Linked DNA regions of Homo sapiens. The protein of the gene in region 2 purifies or fractionates together with the protein of the main gene of each other region. This does not show direct contact. Each region holds a gene or a part of one and is shown on either strand. Other genes may lie near its edges.

Region 1 (3,500 bases), on a different chromosome or scaffold from region 2:
TCATGAAGGCCGGCAGGCGGCCGGTGGCAGAAGCTCAGTGGTGGCGGGGGAGTCAGTCCCCAGGGAGCCCAATGGGCTGGGGGAAGGTCTGAACACTACAGCCTTCAAGGCAAAGGGAGGAGATATTTTGTCCAGAGAATAGGAGCCGGGGGCAGCCCCTGGGGCAGATGTGCTGAGGCAGGGGCAGGTGGTGTCCTGAGGCAGGGGCAGGTGTCCTGAGGCAGGGGCAGGCAGGTGCATGGGCCCTGATGGGTGAGGGGTTGGGGGAAGTGTGTTTCTTGGGGTTCTGCCTTGGCTGCCACTGGGATTGGGAGGGGCTGAGGCCCCAAGCCTTCAGGGTCTAGACAGAGGCCATGATGCCTGCTGTACCCAGAGAGAAGGCCAAGGCCTCACGGCCTCCGAGGCCCTACATAGTGTGGCCCATACCCCAGACCTCATCTTTGCTGTTTCTTCCTCTCCCACCCCCGACAGCTATGCTGGCCTCCTTGCTGCTCCTCAAGCAGAAACACCCAGCACCTCCTGCCTCAGGGCCTTTGCACGTGCTGTGCCCGCTGCCATCTCCCCAGCATCCATGGGGAGCCTCCCCTCCATCTTCACGTCTCTGCTCTAAAGCCCCCTTCTCAGAGAAACCTTCCCTGACCCCCACATATACAACAGCACCCTGATCCTGGCCCCCTCTCTCCCCTTCACCCTGGGTGTGTCTCCAGGGCACATATTTCAACCCAATATGCTGTGTAATTATTATCTTTATTATTATTTTTGAGATGGAGTCTCACTGTGTTGCCCAAGCTGGAGTGCAGTGGTGTGACCTTGGCTCACTGCAACCTCCACCTCCCAGGTTCAAGCGATTCTCATGCCTCAGCCTCCTGAGTAGCTGGGATTACAGGTGCCCACCACCACATCCAGCTAATTTTTGTATTGTTAGTAGAGACGGGGTTTCGCCATGTTGGCCAGGATGGTCTTGAACTCCTGGCCTCAAGCGATCCGCCCACCTCGGCCTCCCAAAGTGCTGGGACTACAGGTGTGAGCCACCATGCCCGGCCTTGCTGTGCAATTATTTATTTGCTGTTTTATTGTCTCCGATAGAAGGTCATCTTCGTAGGCATGGGAACTGTGTTTTATTCTCTGCTATATCCCCAGAGCCTAGAACAGTACCTGGCACATAGTAGGTGCTCAGCAAATAGTTGCTGCATGAATACAGAAATAAGTGACTGGATGAATGTGCAAGGGTGGCTCTGGCCTAGGGGAGGAGCTGCTTTTAGCCCCGCTTCATGGAGGGCGCAGGTGTCTTCATCCCCTGCTGTCCCAGCTGCCCTCCATGCCCCCCTGCCCCAGTGCACCCTCTCATACCCCCAACCCCAGCCCACCTTGTGCAGGTCCTGGGCCAGTGCGTCGTGCAGAAGCTGCTTGTTTTCTTGCAGGAAGCGGCCCAGGCCTTGGAGCTGCGCAGCCCGGAACTCAGCTGGCCGCGTGCGCCCCGCGTGGAAGGCCTCCCGCAGTCGCCGCAGCGTGTCCCCAAGGGGGTCCATCCTGCCAGATGGGGTGGCATGAACTGGGTGGCCAGGGCTGCCCCTCCTTCATGGGCACCACCCAGCCGCCCCAGGGTCTGGGCACCCCTGACCTGCCTGCACCCACAGGGGCTTGCAGACACCTCTACCTTATACACACACAGGGACCCACTCAGATGACCCCACAGGGACTGAGGCTGCCTGCAACCCCTTTCACCCAACAGTGAGCACTCCCAGACACACATGAAGACCCTCGCACCACTCCCCTCTGCCATGGACCTGGAGGCGGCTGCAGGACTGGGTGTGGGCTTGGGGACAGCTGCTCCACCACAGCCCCCGAGGGTGAGCAGGCAGGCAGAGCGCCATGCTTCTTCCTGCCGCACAGAAATTAACCCCAAGCCATGGCCTCTGCCCTGCCCTGATGCCCCTCCTGGAGGCGGGGCAGCCTCACCCCTGCCAGTCTGAATGGTGTAAGCAGGAGCTTGATGAGTAGAGGGGGTGACTCACTGCCACCATGGCCACCACCTTGGAGCACTCCAGACACAGAATTCTCCGTCTTCCTCTGTCCCCAGCCTGGGGGCACTGCCCAGGGAGGCCAGGCCAGTGGGCAATAGCCTCTTCTCCCTGTGCCTCAGCTTCCTCAGGAAGAGGGGGAGAACACCTCGGGCCTCCTGGAGGCCCTGCTGCCCACCCTGCCGGGGCTGTGGTGCTGGGAGGCAGAAACAGCTGTGGGGGAGAGGATCAGGGCGGGGGAGAGGGCGTTCCTGCCTCCGTGCTGGTGCCAGCCAGAGCTGGCAGGCAGGGTAGGGGCCTAGACATTCCCCCGAGCCCTGCCTGTTTACTTGAAGTTCATCGGAGGAGCACTCTGACGCACTCGTTCCTCGGCCTGGTGCCAAGGACCCGTGGTGACCCTTTCCTCCTTCCCTCTCCGAGTCCCTTTCCTCCAGATCTCAGCTTGGCTGATGCTTCCTCCAGGCAGCCCACCCAGATTATGCCCTCATCCACTGTCACAGTGGCCCCTTGACTCTGCTCCCCAGCGTTCTGAGTTGTGCCATGTGATAAATGTCTGGTTACACTCTACCCACCTCCCAACCCTGTCCACATCTCCCTTATTTCCCCCTCATTAGACTGGGAGGCAGGCCCCTCTGTGCCTACTTATTTGAGACCTAGTGCTTGAAGCCTCTCATGTTACCGGTGTAATGATGGCACCTGCCAGCTAATGATGAGACCACACAGTCGGTTCTGAGCCCAGGGCCCAGCATCGGTGAGCGCAAGGCTGTGGGTGATTGTTAAGTGGCCACCTTGAGGGCGGGACCTGCTCCGGTCTGCAGGATGGCCCTGCTGGACCAGTGTGCTACTGAGAGCCTGGTCAGGAGCCCCAGGCCAGCCCTCAGCTGGAGTGATTGTGGGGCCAGGCTGAACCCACCATCTTCCTGCTCTGATTGGGAGAAGCTGGGCAGTGGCCCGCACACAGGACAGGCACCATGGTCCCCATAGGGGATGGCTCGTCACGGGAGCAGGACTGAGACCCAGGAGCCAAGAACGAGCCTCTCGAGCCACCATCAGGCCTGTCTCCGGGCTCTGCCTCTTACTGGTTGTGGGACCTTGGGCAAATCACTCACCTTCTCTGCCTCGGTTTCCTCATCTGTGAAATGGGGATGCTAATGGCACCTGGTGTCATTGTGAGGATTAAATGACATCACGCTGCATAAAACATTTGCTGTTGTGCCCACAGAAAGTACTCGACAAAGGTCAGCTCTGGGTGTTTTGCTAAGTAGCCTGCAAATATTTATCTCCCTCAACTCCGCACTCTCCTGGGTCCTTCTCCATTCTACTCTCACCTTCAGACTTCTGCCAGTGGTCAAAGGCAAACCACGCCTGTGCCTCTCTCACCCTTTGTAAGAATCTCTGCAGAAACCACAAAAATGCAAGGCACGTAACGTGAATGGTGGACTGTGGGCCGGGAGCTCTGTGGGGGATGGAGTTCTGCAG
Region 2 (4,254 bases):
GATACCCTTGTTTTTCCTTCAAAAAATACTAACACCAAGGTGCTCTATCACTTTTTATTAACTTAGAAACCTCACAAAATGCAATCGGTAATCCTTTTCTACTTCAGTCCTAGAGTTAGATGAGGTTAATGATACCAGCTACCAAAGAGAAAATATTTCCAGGGCAATTCAAAGCCCCTATTTGATTCTCTTAAAAAGACTGTATTTGTCCCTTGACTTATGAGACTGACCAATTAAAAGAGTTGTTCTGGGCCTAATCTGAGAAAATGCAGTTGTAACAGCAATAATAATAATAATAGCACAGCTATCATTTCTTGGGCATTTACTTAAGGGTCAGTTACTAGTCTAAAAACATTTCTTCCTCACAGTAATCCTACTATCATCATCCCTAACATATAGATGATGGTAAAAGAGAGTAAGGGACTTGTCTAAGATCACACATACCTATGGGCAGAGTGTGACGGGAATCTAGGTCTGATTCTAAAGCAGGGGTTGGCAAACTACAGCCCTTGGTCTGTTTTTGTATGGCCCGAGAGCTAAGAATAGTTTTTATGTTGTAAAACTTTATAAAAAGAAAAAAAAATCAAAGAAAAAAAATGCAACAGCGACAGAGATCTACGTATCCACAAGATCAACAATCATTACTACCTGGCCCTTTACAGAAAAAAAAAAAAATTGCTGACCTCTGGTCTAAAGCCTTGTACCTTTAATTACCACATCATACTATCTCTCTCTATAAAAGAAGTATCTCTGATCAGTTCATTACTTTATAATACTCATTTGGCATTTAACCAAATTTAAGATGCCATTATTTTCTTTATATGACCTGCCTATAAGTGACTTGAAGGCAAAGATCTTATACCTCTTTGTATTTTCTGAGCATAATACATAGAAGGTTTATCAACAAATGTTTGTTGAGGATAGTAAATAAATCACACACTGTTATGCAGAAAATTATATAGAAATATATAGCTTATCTGGCCAATTTGGCTTAAGGTGCACTGCAAATGAAATGCAAAACATATTAAATATAAAAACCATCTAATATGTCTAAAAACTAGGAATCTTAGTGAGCAGAGATATTTTACACGCAGGCTCAGAACTGTATTCTCTTAAAAATGAAAAATAAGCCTGAGTTCATGCATCTTCCTGAGGCACACAACTACCTTTCCTTGCTATCCTTGAGAGATGCACATTACAGAAGTCTGGATTTACTAGGGGGCGGGGGTTTGCATGGAGCAATGTCTTTTGTGCCAAAGCTTCATCTACCTATCTGCAAGTCTGAGAGACAAACCTCAACAAGCTCATCGGTTTAACTGCTCCAAATGAAGATAATCTTCACACATGTACTGCACAGAAAGAATTGTTTGTCCGCCCTCATCTCTTTAGCAATACCCGCACAGATTAATACAGTCGGCAATATGTATCTTTTCTCCTCTTGAGGCCCCAGCACAGCTCAAAATGCCTCTGAGCCCACACTTTGATTTACCCCTTCTCGCCTTGTCACCAAAATAATAATAATAATAATAATAATAAACCTCAGAAAGCAGACTGAGACACAAGAATCGAAGCCATTTATTCTACAATCGGTCAATAACCTCATGCCAACAGCAAGTCACCCATACTGCATATGCATGGTGTTTGTAATTACTGTTTGTCTGAACTGTCCTGATCATCGTATAGTACACTATACTTCTGGAAGGACCTTAACTCTTCCTCGTCCTCACTTTTGTATGCCTGAATTGGAAGGGTCAACCACAGGTATCCATATCAGATATTAGAGGCATAGTACAATAAATGGGATGTCATTAAAAATGCCCTAAGCCTTCTGTAGCCTATTTCACGTTCGGGTTTTTTTTTTCGGACTCCACAAGAATAAGATTTTCCTTTGCAACCTCGAAAGGACAGGGCGTAGCAGGAGCTAGGTGTTGAGTAAAGGTCGACTCTGGCTCCAAAAGAACGCCAGATTCTGGGCAGTAGAGATACTACTGCAGTTTCAATGAACCTTAAACAAACTGACACCCCAGAGAAATGGATCGCAATGGTGTCTCCCCTCCCCCAGCCCCCAGCCCAATTCCAGACACCGCGCCCACTCGTTTTCCATCCTCAGCCCCGGGTCCCGAGCTTGGTAGGCAGGGAAAGGGTGGGGGGCTGGGGGTGCGGAGGAAAAAGGGGGTGGGGTCGGAAGCGAAAAAGGTGTGGAGAGGCAGATAAAATGGGGCGCGAGGCTGAAGAGGAAAGGGGGTGAGGCAGAGAAACGCGGGGTAGGGGGAAGGCGAGGCAGAAAATGGAAGGAATTAGAAGGGGAGCCGAACGTAGGCCGAGCAGGGCCAGCAGAGGAGGCGAAGCAGCCGGCGGGCAGAGAAAGGGGCAGCGCCAAGGGGCTGACAAGGGTTGAGGAACTTGCCATAAATCATAGCCAGGCCGGTTTCGTGCAGGAAGCGGGCCCGGCGGTGCTTGAAGAGCCAGATTGTGAGAATGGTGAGGGTGAGCAGCAGGATGAAGATGAGCAGGTTGGCGCTGTCCTGCCGGTGGCTCTCCTCGGCTTGCTTCTCGGACACGATCTCCTCGTCCATGGCTCTAGCCTCTCCGCCGCCGCCGTCCGAAGCCCCTGCCCAGTCAAAGACGCCCACTGCGAGGAGCAACCAAAGGGGCCGCATGAGCCTGCGGGCTCGGGGACTGCTGCCGACGCCACGGCGGAGGGGTGCCCGCCGCCAGCCGCGCCGAGCCATGTCTCCCCCCGCCTCCCGCCCCTACCTCACCGGCGGCCGCCCGCGGTCGGACCACTCCCCGAGGGCTCACGGGAAAGGGGCGGGGCCCGGGGGTAGCCGTCGGAGCGCGCGCCGCCGCCGCCGCTCTTAAAGGGGCCGCGGCATCCCAAGCTCGCTCTGCCAGGTTCCTTTGCCCCTCTGTCCCAGGTCACACGCACCCACAGGCGCTGCCGGGAATGAAAGGCCGTCTAAACTAGCCCACTGCCTTTGGCTAAAGAAACATCGGCTCAGTGTAACCAAGCAGAGGCAGACTGCGCTTTCTACTTTGATCCTATTCTCAGAGCTCTCAGGGGAATTGATCTTTCATAGGAATTGATCTTTCATAACCCATCTCAATATCGTCCCCCAGTGTCTCTTAACAGGATAAGTTGTCCCCTTGGGAGGAGCCTCAATCTCCATCTCTGTAATTTAAATTTAAATCGGATTCTCCTTGTATTGTCCTCATCGGGAAAGAAAAAAAAAAAAACACAAAAAAACACCACACACACACAGAGCACTGTAGCAGTTCATAAAACAATCGACTCAAAGGTATGGATTATGTGTGTGTCTGTGTAGTCGGTTTTCTTTACATGTAAACATCTGATATAAGTCATCTCTCACGCTAGGAATCTGTACACAGAAACTCATCAACCTTACAGCAAAGATTGGATCGGTTTGTGCTTAGATTTCCCAATGCTCGTAAACACTTCCCTCCCGAAGAAAAAATCTTGGGTGGTGTGGTGGATTTCTCCTTCTCCTCTTGCTCCTTTTTACTGCTGTTTTAAAGCAAATGTCCCCAGCTCCGAAGTCACCCTTGACCCCTATCTCTCATCTCTCCTCTTTAGTATTCCTCAGGACAGTATTTTTTTTCTGTTCTCAGCCTGTCCAACCTCTCTCACCAGAATTTTCACAGTTCTCACCTCCATACTGGAGCTTTGTCTTTTGAGAACAGTGACTTCCTATTTTTTCTGTATTTCTCCGATCGCTCCTTAGTTTGTGTGGGCTCTTTGTTTTCTCAAGACTTTGATTTCAACATGAATGATCTACAAGTCTCAAGCCCTGGCCTGCTGCCCCAACTTCAGGCCTCTACCTGTTGGATTCTGAGCATACCCTGTTGAGGCTCCTACCACCCTCAAAACTAAAAATATTTTGAAATGAGCTCATTTGAAATGAGTTCCCCCTGCAAGTACAAATTCCTTCTCAAATTCTTCATACCATCAGTGGTACCACTGTCAGTTCAATTCCTATCATTCTGCCTGGAACTCATGATTCTCAAATGGTTCTTTCCATCTCATGGCCATATAACCTCCTTGCTAAAACAAGTAATACTCAGGCAACTCCAAGCTGCCCCTGTGTGTATTCACCCTCACTAACCAGCTCTCTAAGCTCTCAGGATGATGAGCTAAACAAAAAAAGCACTCAAACGATGTCCAATTCCACTTTCTGTCCCTGTCAGGTCAGGAACTGTCCCAAATCAGAGCCAGTGACTGTGTGCCCATTCTCT
Region 3 (3,500 bases), on a different chromosome or scaffold from region 2:
TGATCCTTATTTGTTTGCTTTCCTTTAGAAAAGCGGAGGTAATCAAACTAGGAAAAGCTGCCTCTTCCTATCACTCCTCTTACTCGTGCCCTAAGCGGAGTTTTGGCCCCTCCACTGCTCTGGGACCAGCAGCTGATTCCCGTGCTGTACCTCCCATCCCATCCTGCTACCAAGGATCCAATCGGCACCTGAAACTGATTCCCAGATTACCAACAACTATTAAATATGAACCCACTCTTACCTTGAAAAACACACTCAAAATCACCAGCCTCTAACACTTTATGTTCCAGGCAGTATACTGAACACTGTAGGTATATTTTCTCATTCAATCTTCAAACCAACATTAAGAGGCTAACACTATTTCTATTACTCCATTTTATAGATTGGGACACAGAGGCTGGGAGAAGCTAAGTAAATGTGTCCAAGTCCCTCAGCATGTACAGAATGGAGGCAGGATCTGAACATGGATTCTAAGCACTGTCTTATGTTAATAGCCCAGGCACCATTTGGACCTCACCTTCTTGGCATTCCAGGGCCACACAGACCAGGGTACTTCAACACCACCATGTTTATCTGCCTCTGCCTCCTCTATATTGGGCACCAAATTTAGAGACCAACTGGAGTGGGGAACAAAGGGCTTAGTGGCTCAGCCAGGACAAAGCATGATAAAACAAAAATTTTTTCAAAAGAAAGAGAAAAAAGAAATCAACAAGAGATTAAAAACATGCCTAGAAAATCCCTTTAGAAACTGAGGCAGACAGGAGGAAGCTACCAATTCACTCCCCCAAACCACTTTACTAAGCTCCCAAGAGCAGTTAAATGTTATCAGATCCCCAGACTTAGTGAATCCTCCTTTCTAGGATCCCAGCTGTTCCGAGCATCAGAGGATAATGTCAAAAATGCTGTTGCAACTGCAGACCCCAGTAACAGCTGGGCAGGTGGGGTGGGGCCACTTGCCTTGGGGAGCTCACCACGTGAGGGTGGTCATTGGTGCTGGGTGCAGGCTGTACTTCTGGGGGCCCTGGCCAGCCCCAGACACGGGCACAGAAAAGCCCATAAGGGCTTTAAGGTTTGATAAGGAGTAAAAGCTCCAGGAATTCTGGGCCCAGAGTAGGAGGTGCACACTCACATGCCTGCTAGGGCCGGAGCCAATGGAGAAAGTAAAGCTGAGGGTGGGCTGTGTGACCTGGAGACAGAACACCTAATGCCAGCTGATGAGAGAATGGCGGGAAAGCAGCCTGGTGGTACCTATCTGTATCAGTCTGCTTGGGCTCCCATAACAGAATACCAGACTGAGTGCCTTAAATGACAGAATTTTCTCACAGATCTGTCAGGGTTGGTTTCTGGTGAGGCTTCTCTTCCTGGCTTGTAGATGGCCTCTTCTCTGTGTGGTGGGGAGGGAGGAGAGGGGCAGGTGAGCAAGGGGGAAAGGGAGGGAGAAAGGAAGCCGGGAGAGGGAGGTGGGGAGAGAGAGAAACACTCTGATCTCTTTTCCTCTTCTTATAAGGACACCAGTCCTATCAGATTAGGGCCCCACCCTTATGACCTCATTTAAGCTTCATTATTAGGATGATCTATCTCTAAACACAATCACAGGGGGGTTAGATCTTCAACATATAAATGGGGGGAACATGATTCAGTCCATAGCAATACTCTTCTGATTTTCCCAGAGAAGCAAAAATCTATTTAAAATGTGAAATGTCCTCATTTGTAACTTCTGGCAATTATTCAAATTGAGTGAAGACAACGTGCACCAAGGCCTGGGGCTGCTGGCCTCATGGTTGCCAGTTAAAAACGGATGCTCATTTGCAAGCTCTGGTCTAAAGCAAATCCCCTGTCCTGCTGGCCTCACCATGGCCTGTGCCCGGGTTCCCAGTTTTGTGACTGCCAGAACCAGCAGCTCACCGGTCACTCCTCCACAAGAAGGGTTACAGAGGTGGAGGGACCAGACAGCCAGCACCTGCCAGACCCAGGCTGCAGAAGATCAGGCAGGGCCCAGGCCAGGAGGGGGTCAGCAACGGTGCAGAAGGTTTTATATTTTACTTTCACAGCAATTTGACTTTTAAGGATTGTTCACACTTCCAATTGAAAATTATAGAAATCTTATTTTGTCACTGAAAAGTGTTTTTGTCCTAAATGCAGCCTGAAGTACTAGTGCTAGATTGTGGAAGCTTTCAGTCCTGTATTGATTTGTTGTCTTACATGTTGTAAATTAGTAAGGAGTAAACATGTTTCACTAACTCAAGCTTATCCTCAGAATGATCTCTTTCCCCCTCCTTTTTTTTTGGTTATCTGAAGTAGTATATGGAACTGGTATTAATAACATAATGCTTACATTTGCTCCTAAATTAAATATTAACCTAATGCTATTGATAAATTCGGCATTTATAGATCAGGTTTTCTGACCAAGGTATTTATCCTTTGGCAAAATCTTGGCAGTCTGAGTGGTTCTTGTAAAACTTAACACATTTAATTATCAAGGCATATTTAACATTTAGTTAAGGGCTCACTTTCTTAGATTAAAACTTTGACATGGGTAGTATCTTCTTGCTTTAGAATAAAGAGCAAAGCAAAGTCAAAGCTGGAGACATTAATCCACCATCAATAGCTGATGACTGTGACTATATTGCCTTATCAATAGAAAAGGAACCCCTTCAAAGCAGGAAAAACTCCAACAGAATTCAAGTCTGTACTACTTTGGTGAGAAGGGTGATGTCAGTCTTTGCTGAGGATAAACCAAGGCTTGAGTGTGGGGCAGGACGTTCGGCCTTCCACCAGCTCATATGCAACCCTCTCACCGGTTTTCAGCCTCCAAATAACGCAGAAACCTTTGCTTGCCACACAGCCTGCCGTGTCATCTGGCTTTTGCTTAGCACAAATGGGTCACCTGGAAGTGACATGTGCCTGTATTGGTCCTCTCTGGCATCACTGTGTACCAGTGTGGTCATAAACGGGGATGAAACAGGGAACAGAACGGTGGGAACCTCTGTTGTGTGGCTCACAAAGGTAATGGAGAACACGCCTACACCAGGTTTTCTAGGTGGAACTACAAAATCAAATGAAAACAATTCTTACAGGGAATGCTCAGACCCCAGTGTGTACACAAATCCAGATGGACCCTCAGGCCCAATTTGAGAGGGTTGAACTGATCAAGAGAGCCAAAAACACCCAGTATAGGAAGCATAAAACATTCACAAAGAAACACGAGGAAGTGTGCACAACAAGAGATCATCCAGGGAAGCTGGCTGGAGGGTGGGTGAGTTTTGAGCAAGTTTTTGGAGGTGTTTTGGTGGTGATGGAGGATAAGATGAGCATCTCTGTTATGTGTCTACATGTCCCAATTACTCATGACTGCTACAAATCTGTCTGCAGCAAGCATCACTGTCTAGTTCTCACAAATGTCCAGCAAACCATGAGGCCTCCAAGCCATGGGCAGTGATGGCCAGGCCCAAAGCCATGTGCAGTTCAGTGGGCACTGCATACCCAGACAGGTAAAGGTC
Region 4 (3,500 bases), on a different chromosome or scaffold from region 2:
CAGAATAGCTCAAGATTATGGAGGGCCTTGAAACTCACACAGAAATTTCTGAACTTGATGGAATCAATAAAATGGAGCCACTGAGATGACAGACTGAATTAGGAGAGGTGGCAATGAGATGAAAATGCAGGACAAAGACACAGGGACATTGCTAAGGAAAAAAAATGCTGCAGCTGAAGCAGAGGCAAGAGTCAAAAAGAACCATAGCTTCTAATTTGGCATCATGGCAGGATGAGTCATCTCTCCTTCAAACCAAGGAGCAGTCTAGAACATGGCAAAAGGGCTTCTCTGCCTTTTGGTAAAACAGTGATGATGATAAGGATAGCTAAAATCTATGAAGTGTTTTCTGAGGGCCAAGACAGATAATAAGTGTTTACAGAAATCATATAACACCATCCAACAACCTCAGGAGGTAGGTCAACAAATTAGAAATGAACAATAGAGTAAGATGGTCAAATACACAGGCTCTGAAGCCATCCTGCCTGAGTTCAAGTCTTGACTTTACTACTTACCATCCATATGACCTTGAGCAAGTTATTAACCTACCAGTCCCAAGTTTCCATTGCAAAATGGGGATAAATTCTACCTATCTCAGGAATTTTGTGAGGATTGAGTTAATGTATATAATGTCCATAGAACAGTACCTAGCACATATTAACATTCAACAAATATTAGATACTATTGTTATAAACTATTATATATTGCCATTCAAAATTTCACATCAAGTGACAAAACTACCCAGTAAATACAGAGATAATGGAAACTTGGATAAACAATCTTGAAAATTATTATATTAGGTTTACTCAAAGCTTATAAAAAAATTCCAGTTTGTTAGTCATAGTCCTGCTCCACTTGAGTACTTCTAAGTTGTCCTCCTAAATTGTAAAATCTAGCTCAAAATAATCATTTTTTGAGGCTATTTCAAATTTGGGAGGGGTGAATAAATCTGATTATGGCTGGCTTAACTACCAGAGGAATCCCTCCCCCACCACGACCCTCTATTATCCTGCATTGCTTACCCAGTAAGGTTGAAACGGCCTCCACGCCACCATTATAGATAGCAGCATAGCGAGAAGGCATCACTTTCTCCCACAGGCCCTGTGTGTAGTTCACAACTTGAAAATAGCCACAGGTAGAGAGGGCCCACCACACAGACCAGCAGAGAAGAGGGCGAGAGGAGTAGCACATCAGGAAATCATTCCATAGTACTTTCAATACAAGGAGACGGTCTGGCTTGGGTTCCTACATAGCAAAAGGGAACAATGCTCAAACTCTGATGAAGGCAATTATATAGAAAGCAATTTACAGGCCCAATTACTTACCTAACAGACTTTTTTCCTTGTGAAAACTAACTGCTTACTTCATAAACTTATTAACAAATACATTTATCCCCTCTGGCGAAAAATATGTTCTCATAGGATTTTTGCTTTAAATGCACTATAGCATTAACACAGCTGTATGTAATCAACCCAGCAAAAGATGTACTGTTTACAAAATGAAGATGATGAAAAGAGACCGCAGGCTTCAGCCAATGGGAGTCTGTAATCTACATCTCCCATAAACTGGCAAACAACATAACAAGAATAATAATAAGCAACAGACTAGCAACCCTAATAAATCACTATTCAGTTAAGGCCTCCTATCGTTATAATTGACAGACTGATCCAACAGTTAAGATAGAAATATTGGAAAGAAGTAGACCAAAATATTAGCAGTTCTCTCTAGGTGGTGGGTTCTTAGTGATTTAAATTTTCTTCCTTAAACTTTTTATATTACTTAATATTTAAACAATGAGAAATAGTATTATAATAAAGTAATAAATAAAGCTACTGGGCTTATAATTGAGTGAAGCAAGACATTACTGAGCTACGCACTATCCCAAGAAGTCAATATGAGATGTCAGACACTCTGTGAGATATCTCTGATTTCAACTGTATGAAAGGACTAATCTACCAAAGGTTACTGTAATCCCTGGGCCTTGCTCAGAACATGGGAAGGCCGGGTGTAGTGACTCATGTCTATAATCTCAGCACTTTGGGAGGCCAAGACAGAAGGATTGCTTGAGCCCAGGAGTTCAAGACCAGCCTGGGCAAGAAAGTGAGATCCTATCTCTACCAAAAAAAAAAAAAACCCACAGAAAATTTTACTTTTGTGGCTAACATGGAAAGGCAAAATGAGAGCCATGGAAAGATGAGTACAATATACCACTGAGTAAAATAACAGCAAGTTACAAGACTACATGTAGATCACAATTTCATTTACTATAAAATGTATACGTACATATGTATATAGGAAAAGAGATGTTTGAAAAGAAGTTCACTAATCTTTGGGTGGTAGTAGTTCAGGTGATTTTTTATTTTTTATATAGCTTTCTGTAACATTTAATTTAAAAAAATAAGTAGATGCCAGGCACAGTGGCTCACACCTGGAATCATCACACTTCAGGAGGCCGTGGCAGGAGAAATGCTTGAACCCAGAAGTTCAAGATCAAGCTGGGCAACATAGTAAGATCCCGTCTCCACACACACACACACACACACACACACACACACACACACACACACAATTTAATTAGCTGGGTGTGGTGGTGTACACATGTAGTCCCTGCTACTCAGGAGACTGAGGTGGGAGGATCACTTGAACCTAGAAGATCAAGGCTGCAGTGATCCGTGATCACGCCACTGCACTCCAGCCTGGGCGACAGAGACAGACTCTGTCTCAAAAAACAAACGTGTGTGTGTGTGTGTGTGTGTGTATATATACACACACACCATATATATCATTTTTATAAAATTAATAGATATTTTCTCCTCTTATATACAGTAACAGTGACCATCAACATTAGTTAAATAAAGGCCATTTTCTCCCTCAGAGGCTAGAAAACCTCACTGGACTGAGAATCCGAGTTTCATCGTTGTTTTACCTTCTCATACCATCCCAAAGCAACCCCAGTGTGGTGCTTCCTTCTTTGTGCTGTTTAGCCCAGAGGGGGATATCCTTCAAGTACCATTACTACAGCCCCTTTCCAAAATTCAGGGAGGAGTACTGAGGTTAATCAAAATAACTCAGAGAAAGAAGTACCGACACTTGAAAATTCTACTTGATGAATTTGCATAAGATAACCACCTAGAAGTACAACATACTGCTGTTACAAGATTGATTTCTTGGCACTGTGTATGAGAGCAAACCTTGTGAATTTAAACAAATCACAAGACAATTGTTAATCATATATAATGTGAATTTGCTAAGAGTGAGTGAATGGTACCAAGCACATTTTCATAAGTCTTTATTCAAGGTCCACCAGTTTTATTGAACTACATCAGAATTTTACTATTTAGCTTCAGTTGCTTAACCAATATAACTTGGAAAACAACTGGGATATCTAAAACTTTCAAGGATGCTGGAAGGATTATAAGAAAAGAAAGTATATTCCTGGAAGAATGGAACTATTAAAAGGATTCACAAGTTTCTATTAGAAATCCTACCATAAACTGATAAGA

The links. Proteins that work in one complex are often made in the same cells at the same time.
Region 1: the proteins of SLC9A6 (region 2) and ALDH3B1 purify together in Homo sapiens (affinity purification with mass spectrometry; 2 studies listed by BioGRID and IntAct, with this or other methods). This does not show direct contact.
Region 3: the proteins of SLC9A6 (region 2) and POMGNT2 purify together in Homo sapiens (affinity purification with mass spectrometry; 3 studies listed by BioGRID and IntAct, with this or other methods). This does not show direct contact.
Region 4: the proteins of SLC9A6 (region 2) and SLC19A2 purify together in Homo sapiens (affinity purification with mass spectrometry; 2 studies listed by BioGRID and IntAct, with this or other methods). This does not show direct contact.

What each region holds. Positions count from the first base shown.
Region 1 is NC_000011.10:68,013,327-68,016,826, reverse strand, and holds part of ALDH3B1 (aldehyde dehydrogenase family 3 member B1), read right to left. Parts: intron 1,531-3,500; 5' UTR 1,530-1,530; coding exon 1,368-1,529; intron 1-1,367. UniProt on the Homo sapiens protein: Oxidizes medium and long chain saturated and unsaturated fatty aldehydes generated in the plasma membrane into non-toxic fatty acids. May have a protective role against the cytotoxicity induced by lipid peroxidation.
Region 2 is NC_000023.11:135,983,981-135,988,234, reverse strand, and holds the start of SLC9A6 (sodium/hydrogen exchanger 6), read right to left. Parts: upstream 2,801-4,254; 5' UTR 2,758-2,800; exon of another isoform or gene 2,733-2,757; coding exon of another isoform or gene 2,577-2,732; coding exon 2,408-2,576; intron 1-2,407. UniProt on the Homo sapiens protein: Endosomal Na(+), K(+)/H(+) antiporter. Mediates the electroneutral exchange of endosomal luminal H(+) for a cytosolic Na(+) or K(+).
Region 3 is NC_000003.12:43,096,080-43,099,579, forward strand, and holds part of POMGNT2 (protein O-linked-mannose beta-1,4-N-acetylglucosaminyltransferase 2), read right to left. Parts: intron 1-3,500. UniProt on the Homo sapiens protein: O-linked mannose beta-1,4-N-acetylglucosaminyltransferase that transfers UDP-N-acetyl-D-glucosamine to the 4-position of the mannose to generate N-acetyl-D-glucosamine-beta-1,4-O-D-mannosylprotein.
Region 4 is NC_000001.11:169,468,945-169,472,444, forward strand, and holds part of SLC19A2 (thiamine transporter 1), read right to left. Parts: intron 1,243-3,500; coding exon 1,020-1,242; intron 1-1,019. UniProt on the Homo sapiens protein: High-affinity transporter for the intake of thiamine. Mediates H(+)-dependent pyridoxine transport.